Linked DNA regions of Homo sapiens: region 2 is linked to region 1. Evidence: fine-mapped expression QTL. A gene starts in region 1. The other region holds a variant in brackets. All regions are shown on one strand. Distances are from middle to middle. Region 1 holds the start of NFATC2 (nuclear factor of activated T cells 2). Region 2 overlaps NFATC2 (nuclear factor of activated T cells 2).

What was found. PIP is the estimated chance that this variant, and not a neighbour inherited with it, causes the effect.
Region 2: its variant is the best candidate, but not a certain one, in a credible set for the expression of NFATC2 in whole blood (INTERVAL, PIP 0.68).

The regions. Positions count from the first base shown.
Region 1 is chr20:51,541,087-51,545,086 of GRCh38, forward strand. NFATC2 (nuclear factor of activated T cells 2) reads right to left here and starts at 1,633. Exons shown (of 11, transcript NM_012340.5): 1 at 1,284-1,633. The coding sequence starts at 1,413. RefSeq lists an enhancer at 1-603 and silencers at 1,368-1,477, 1,488-1,647.
Region 2 is chr20:51,513,596-51,517,595 of GRCh38, forward strand. It overlaps NFATC2 (nuclear factor of activated T cells 2), which reads right to left. Exons shown (of 11, transcript NM_012340.5): 3 at 3,189-3,360. Among named protein-coding and RNA genes, the nearest start is that of NFATC2, 27 kb to the right of the region's middle. The variant G/A (reference allele first, on the strand shown) is at 1,544.

The sequences.
Region 1 (4,000 bases):
AGGATACCCAAAGCTAAAGCAAACCCCTCACCTAACGTGGCCAGAGAGGACACCGATGGAAGCGAAAACTTCATTATCTGCCTAACACAGTGTTTGTGGGAAACATCAGGCCACCAAGCCTCCTTGACAGGCTTCCTCCACGAGCCAGTCAGCACAAGCCCTTCCTACACACTAGATGGAGGCAAGCCCAGAGTGCGTCTGGAAGCTACTAACAGGCCTGCCACTGAGCCTTCAACAAGCATTGGCTGGGCTGGGCTGGGCTGTCAAAATCAGGAAGCCTGGTTGGGTTTTTTGTTTTTTCCAAGACAACCTGCTAACCAGAAATACACAGTGAGGTTGGGCGTGTGGCCGCTTCCCCCTCCTCCTCCTCCTCCCTCTAACGAATGCTCCTGTTAAACACGTGAAGTGACAGATAAGCATTGGGCCCAGCCCGGGGAAGTCCCCAGCCCCCAGCAACTGAGGGCAGTTGGAGGCACAGAGTGACAAAGTTCAGGCAGAAAGAGCCTGTGTCCTTCTGAATCCATGCTGCAGCTGCCCCTCACCCTACCCCATCCCACCACATCCATTAGGACTAAGCGTAGAAGATCACTTAATATAGCTCAGACCAATCCTCTTGTGAGTGGTAAGTGATGGGTTCAGCAGCAGAACCCAGGGAGGAAATGGGCCGGCCTTATAATACCAAAGGTTTTAACCCTCTCCAGCATCAGACAGACAACCTCTTCCTCAGTTTCAACACAAAGTCCCCGTCAACCACTGCTCACAGGAGGTGATGGGAGCTGCGTGGCCTCACTTCAGTGCCTGGAGGGAAGGAGCGGCCTCCTACCCTTGATAACTGGGTTCAGCTGCACCCCCCTTCCTTCTTTTTTTGGCAACTCCTCCCTGCTAACTCCATTCTTCGCTTCCTCACCTCCTCCCTCCAAAGGCACAGAAATCATGTCCCTTGCCCTTTGACAGCCCAGTCCCAGGCAAGAGGCCAGCAGACAGCACCCGCCCCCCAGCCTTGGGACCTGCCTGCCACCTTTTGTTTTGCTGAGAGTGACCCTCAGGGAGCAGTCATGAGCAACCAGAAACTGGTGCCCCTAAGGGGCAAGAGGGAGCCGACCGCCCCCTAAGGGTGGCAGGGGCCACTGACGCCTCCCCTCCCTGGCACCTGGGTAGGGGCACCCTCCCTCCAGGCCCCTTAGGAAGGGGGACGGCTGGAGCCAAGAGGACTCCTGTGCCCAGTCCCCAGGCCTGAGCCCCTGGCGGGCTCAGGGGCCAGGCCAGGGGTAGCCTCCACCGACCTTCGTTCGGATTCAAATACTCATAGTCGAAGAGGATGGAGAAGTCAAGCTCGTCTTGGGGGCTGCCCCCAGGCTCGTGGCCTGGGGCGTCCCCGCCGTCGGGTTGGGGCTGCCGCTCGGGGGCGTTCATGGCGCGCAGGGCGGGAAGGCTGCGGGGCCGGGGGCGAGGGCGGGCGCGGCTGGCTCTGGGACCCCTCGCAGTGGGGCTGGCGGAGGCGGCTCGAGCGGCGGGGTCCCTTTCCTCGTAGGGACGCACGCCGGGTCCGGGGACGGCGCGCCTGGCGCAGCGGGTCCTGGACGCGCCCGGGGAAGCTGAGCGGCGGCGGCGACGGCGGCGCGAGCTTCCTGCTCCGGAGGCACCTGTTGCAGCCCGGGGAGGCGGGGGGGGGGGGGGCGTGGAGGCGGGGACAGGGCGGCCAGGCCGGCGGGGGCGGGGCCGCCACCAGGGGACCGGAGGGGAGGGGCGCGCGGCCTGGGCTGGCCGGTGCCGGGAGGAAGGAGGCTGTCCGCGGACCTGACCACACTGTCCCGGGCCACCGCTGGGCGCTGGGGCGGCCGCTGTCTCCCACCCTCCACGGGTGAGTGCGACACGCGCTGCGCGAACCAGGGTCTAGACAAGAAAGCTGCCGCCACTAGGACTTTTGCCCTAAGGGACCCACTGGCCCCACACTTTTTCCTGCTTTTCTTCTCCATGGGGTGGAAGGGGGTATCCACCCCCTTCTATTGCAGACCCGTGTCTCCAGGCGTCTCCGTGTGCCCACGGGGGCGGCATGATTTTCACAGTACTTCAGACACCTGCATGGCCCTGAACTCAACTCCCCAGCGCCTAGGAAGGAATCGGACTGACAGCACTAGTCCCCCCCGTTACAGCTATGCCTCCTGGCCACCTACCACGTGCCAGGTGCTGGGCACCCAGCCGGAGCCAGACACTGTTGCCCTCGGAAGCTCAGGCTCTGGTAGTGGGAGAGGCCTGAAGGAGAGAAACAGGACAAAAAGCATCTGCTTATGGGGCCAGGAGAGAACTCACCAGGGTATGGGATAAAGGTTGGGGTGGCTTTAGTCCCTTGGGTGGTCAAGGAGGACCTCTCTGAGGAGGTGACATTTGAAGAAACCTGATTGATGAGGCGATCTTGGGGAAGTGTGTTCTGGCAGTGAGAACCAAAACACAGAGCCAGAGCTCGAAGGGGCTGGGTGTGCTGGAGGGAGAACGAGGAGTACAGTTCTGATGGGGCGGTTGGCAAGTGACAAACACGCCTGGCTGCTTGTTTAAAGCATGATTCCCAGGCCCCTCCCTGGAGCTTCTGATTCCATAAGTCTGAATACAGACTCGTGAATGTGTATTTTTAATTAAGCACCCAACGTGAGCATTAATGAACAGGTACATTTGGCAAACACTGCATAAGGACCCAGTAACTAAAGAACACCCTCCAATAAAACTCTGCCAGGGGGCTCCACCAACTTAGCTGAAGTTGGAAACAGACTCACAGAGGTAGAAAAGATCAAAACAGTGGTCTTCAACCCTTCCCACATATTAGAATCACCTGGGACACCTTTTTAAACTCCCGTGCTGGGCTGCAATCCAAACCCACTGAAGCAGAATTCCTAATTTTTTTTTTTTTTTTTTTTTTTTTTTTTGGAGACGGAGTCTCGCTCTGTCGCCCAGGCTGGAGTGCAGTGGCGCGATCTTGGCTCATTGCAAGCTCTGCCTTCTGGGTTCACGCCATTCTCCTGCCTCAGCCTCCCGAGTAGCTGGGACTACAGGCGCCAGCCACCATGCCTGGCTACTTTTTTGTATTTTTAGTAGAGATGGGGTTTCACTGTGTTAGCCAGGAAGGTCTTGATCTCCTGACCTCGTGATCCACCCGCCTCGGCCTCCCCAAGTGCTGGGATTACAGGTGTGAGCCACCACGCCCGGCCTGAAAATTTTTTTAAACTTCAGATGAATCTAAGGTGCAGCCAGTGTTGAGGATGAGAAGATTAGACGGGAGAGGTCTTAAGATCCTCGTGAGAACCACAGCTTGACCTCAAGTGATTCGAATCCTTCCCCATGTGCCAGGAGGAATTGAGGACACGCATTCTTCAGGGGAGCCATCTCAGCTCCATTAAGGGGATTTGTGCCAAGCCATCCATCATTCCACAAATATTTATTGAGCACCTGCCTGGCACTGCCACAAGATGTTGGGGATGCAACCATCAACAAGCCACAGCCTCTCCCTTCATCATGCTTATGCCCTGAAAGCAAAGTAGCACAGTTATGAACGGGGTTTTCAAAATTGCACTCAGACCAGTGGTTCTTAACCCAGACTACACATTAGAATCACCTGGAGAGCTGTTAAAATTTGTATTCAACGACCTGAGCACCACCAGACATCGATTTGATCAGAATGTTTGGGGTTGGGACTTAGGCATCAGTATTTTGTAAAAGCTCACCAGATGCTTCCAATGTGTGGCCAGAGATGAGAACCACTTTGGTTTAGACTCAAACTCTACTGCAGGGGCCTGGGGGCTGGCTCAGGAATCATTTCAGAGTCTTGGGCAGCACCTCCTGGTTGTCAGAGCATAAAGAAATTCCAGCCTTTGTTTCCTAACTATAAGCACTTCTGTGCCATGTGTATCCAACAAGCATCTTGGGGGCAGCTGATGCATTTAGGTGGAGGAAGGAAGAGTGAAGACCCCAGCTAGGATACTTATAGACAGGTATCTAGAAAGAGATGGAT
Region 2 (4,000 bases), 27 kb before region 1:
TGGACTGTACACTCAGCCCATTCCCTTCTCTGGAAATTTCCAGGGCCCCAGCCCCTGATGAATGGGTGAGCTGAGCCTCACTCCTCATGCAGCCCAACCTCCAGGCCACAGCCTACTGGACCAATGGGCGGCACCCTCCCAAGACAGGGCCAATCAGCATCTCCCTGAGAATCAGGATTTAGCTCCCATGAGGTGATGACAAGGCTCATACTGGAACAGCATGCAAAACTAGGGGGAATGGAGTGGCCCGCAGGAGGCGTGGGCATTTCCCCTTCAGGCTTTTTCTGCACAAGTGAGAAGGCAGGAAGAGCTGGTCTGCAAAGAGACGTGGATGATCAGATCTACTGTGCTGCAAATAGAGCTTGCGGTATCCAAATCCCAGCTCCACCATTTAATAGCCATAACCTTGAACAAGTCCTTGACAGCTACTTGACCTGTTACCTGCATCATAAGGCTCTTTTGAGGATTAAATAAGTTAACACATATGCAGCACTTGGAACAGGATCTCACAGGCAGCAAATGTTTTCTAAATGTTTATTATTACTATCATCTTGCCAAAATGTAAGCTCATGATGGTGAGAATTTCCAGCTGTTTTGTTCATATCATAACCCAGAATCAAGCACCATGCCTGGTACATAGTAGGTGCTCAATAAACATCTTTTGAATAATCAGTGAATGAAGATGCCACAAAGCCAGAAATGGATACAGATTCTCTCTCCTTAAGACTTAAAATTGTTTGGCCAATGCATTTAATGAGCAGATTCATTCTCCAAGTATTTGTTGAGTGCCTGCTATGTTTGTGGCAGCAAACTGTGCTTGATGGTGATATACAATGAAGAATAAGAAGGAAGTTGTGGTCTCTTTTAAACAAAGCTCATGGTCTAAGAGAGAGAGACATTGACAAAATAATTATGCAAATGTTAGAATTACAAGTAGTGGCAGGTAGCATGAAGGAAAGGTGCATGGAGCTGTGGACACATAAAACAGAGCACTTGGCCAGGCACGGTGGCTCACGCCTATAATCCCAGCACTTTGGGAGGCCGAGGTGGGTGGATCACTTGAAATCAAGAGTTCAAGACCAGCCAGACCAATATAGTGAAACCCTGTCTCTACTAAAAATACAAAAATTAACCAGGCATGGTGGCGCACACCTGTAATCCCAGCTACTCAGGAGGCTGAGGCAGAGGAATCACCTGAACCCAGGAGGCAGAGGTTGCAGTGAGCCAAGATTACACCACTGCACTCCAGCCTGTGTGACAGAGTGATAGACTCTGTCAAAAAATACATATATATATTACATAAGGCAATTGCTCTCAGGATTGGACGGCAGGAATCAGAAGACTGCGGTCCCCAAGGGAGAGGAAGTGCACAGGTGAGCCCACCTTCATTTCAGCTCTCTGCCTGGGGACAGCTCCCCTGCCACGTGCAGGAAGTAGCATCTGAGCAGAGCACAGTGGTCCCGCTGTGCTGAGGATTCCTGAAATAATCCTGGATTCCTGGCACCGCTCAGAGTGCCAGGCTGTGGAAACTGCTGGAATCGGT[G/A]GCATCAGAGAGGAGGAAGCTGCTGGGGGAAACCCTCAACTCTTTGGCCAAGGGCTGGGCTGTGTAAGCACAGGGAGAGATGGTGCGAGGTTTACCAGAGAGGGGCTGCTATGGGGTGGAGAGAACAGAGAGACTAAGAGTGCAGCGGAGCTGGCATATGGGAATTCCAGCCCACCAGATTAAAGAGACCTCCCCACCAAGCATCCAAAATGGCCATGCCTTCAGAACAGGCACATGCCTCAGAGGAAGGGCTACTCCAGGCCTGCCCTAATGGGGCCTAAAACCAATCCTCAAATAAAATACAGAGAAGACAGTTTAAAATCTAAGCCCCATCAAGTTAGATACACCTTGTGCTTTCCACAGATCCACCTGATGAAGCACGAAAGAAAGTTCAGAATGTCTACCACATCCAGTATATATCATCACGATGTCAGAATGCAGTCGACAACTACTAGACAGGCAACACAACAGGAAAATGGGACTCATGGTCAAGAACCAAAACTCAATGAATAGAAACAGATTCCAAGATGGCTATGGTGTCTGATTTAAAAAAAAAAAAAAGCAATTGTCAGGACTTACAAGTTCTTAATATTATCATAGATGTCCTTAATCAGAGGTACACACCCAAAGCACCTGTGGAGATTTGGGGAGTTTGCTGTTTTTCATTTGTTTGTTTGTTTACCTGGGCTTTACTCATGTTATATAGTTTCTAATTTAGTTTCAGAATGCCCAACAATCTGAATTTTTAAGAACCACCCTAGAGGTTCTGATGCACACTATAGATTAAGAACCAAGTTTTATCATATTAATAGGATACTTCTACTTTAAGGCAAATACCAAAAAAAGTTATATTAATTTAAATGTATTAAAGGTTCTAGTTAATTGACTTGTTAGTGGGCACCAGTCAGTTGTTCCTGGTTAACCAGATTATACAATTAAGAATATTTCAACTCCAATTATTTTGGGGAAAAATAGGCACACTTCTCTACTTATTTTGAAAAAAAAATCTGAGGTTAAATCAAAAGCCACAGACACACAAAAAAGCTACTGATTAAGAAAAAAACAAAAGGAAATGCTCATGGCAAAATGTAAACTTAAAAAATCAGAGTACAATCTACATGTTCACTATAGAATTAAGAATAGAAATATATGGTAACAGAGGCTGGCGTGTTTGTGAATAGAAAAAAGAAAGGCAATATATAAAAATACTAATATAGCTATTTTAGGTAGTTTGATAATGTATAGTTTTAATTTTTCTTACTTTTCTATATTTTACAAAAATTACCATTTTTTCTTAATGAACTCTTCATCTGAAACTTAAGGTGATGGTTTCAGAAACCTTCTGTCAACACACAAACCTCTGCAAAACTCTAGCAGTTTCTCCATCAGAAAGAGAAGGGAAGAAGCATCCGGGCACATGAATATCATTTCTATCCTTATCCTGCTGAAGAAGACTTTCTCTTCTGGCTTATGAGTAGCTGGATTAGCTTCTAATGCTAATTTAATCTCATATTTCTCATTCCTCAAAGGAGTAAGAGGCTGAGACACATACCTCACCTTAACAAGCAACAAACAGTGGGTCAGCAGAAGTGAATCTCTTAGTGACAAACACCACACACAAAAGGAAGAGCATTCAAGTCCATACCTGAACCACAGGGTGGCCTCCAGTTGGAGCTTTGACAGCCCCTCGGCTGCCTTCTGTCTCATAGTGGGCCCGGTGATGTGGCTTGGGCTGCACCTCGATCCGCAGCTCGTAAGAGCCTGACTGACTGGACAGCGGCCACTCAAGTGGAGGGAGGGATGCAGTCACTGGGATGCTAAAGGAGAAAATAAAATCAGCCATGTGTGCAATAAACCAAAATTAGTCAACTTGTACAATAATTGTAAACGGCCCTTTCTGAAAATCATGGATACAGTCATGTATTGCTCAACAATGAGGATACGTTCCGGGAAATGCACCATTATGTGAACATCAGAGTGCACTTACACAAACCAAGATGGCACAGCCTACTACATACCTACACTATATGGTATAGTGGCTCCTAGGCTACAAACCTGTACAGCATGTGACTGTACTGAATACTGTAGGCAATGGTAACACAATGGGAATTATTTGAGTATCTAAACTTATCTAAACACAGAAAAGGTACACTAAAAATACAGTATTATGGCTGGGTGTGGTGGCTCATGACTTAATCTCAGCACTTTGGGAAGACAACATGGGTGGATCACTTAAGCCCAAGAATTTGAGGACAGCCTGGGCAACACGGAGAGACCCTGTCTCTACTAAAAATACAAAAAAAATCAGCCAAGCAATGTGGTGCATGCCTATAGTCCCAGCTACCTGGGACGCTGAGGTGGGAAGATCATCTGAGCCCAGGAGGTCAAGGTTGCAATGAGCTGTGATTGCACCACTGCACTCCAGACTGAGGGACCAGAGTGAGACCCTGTCTCAAA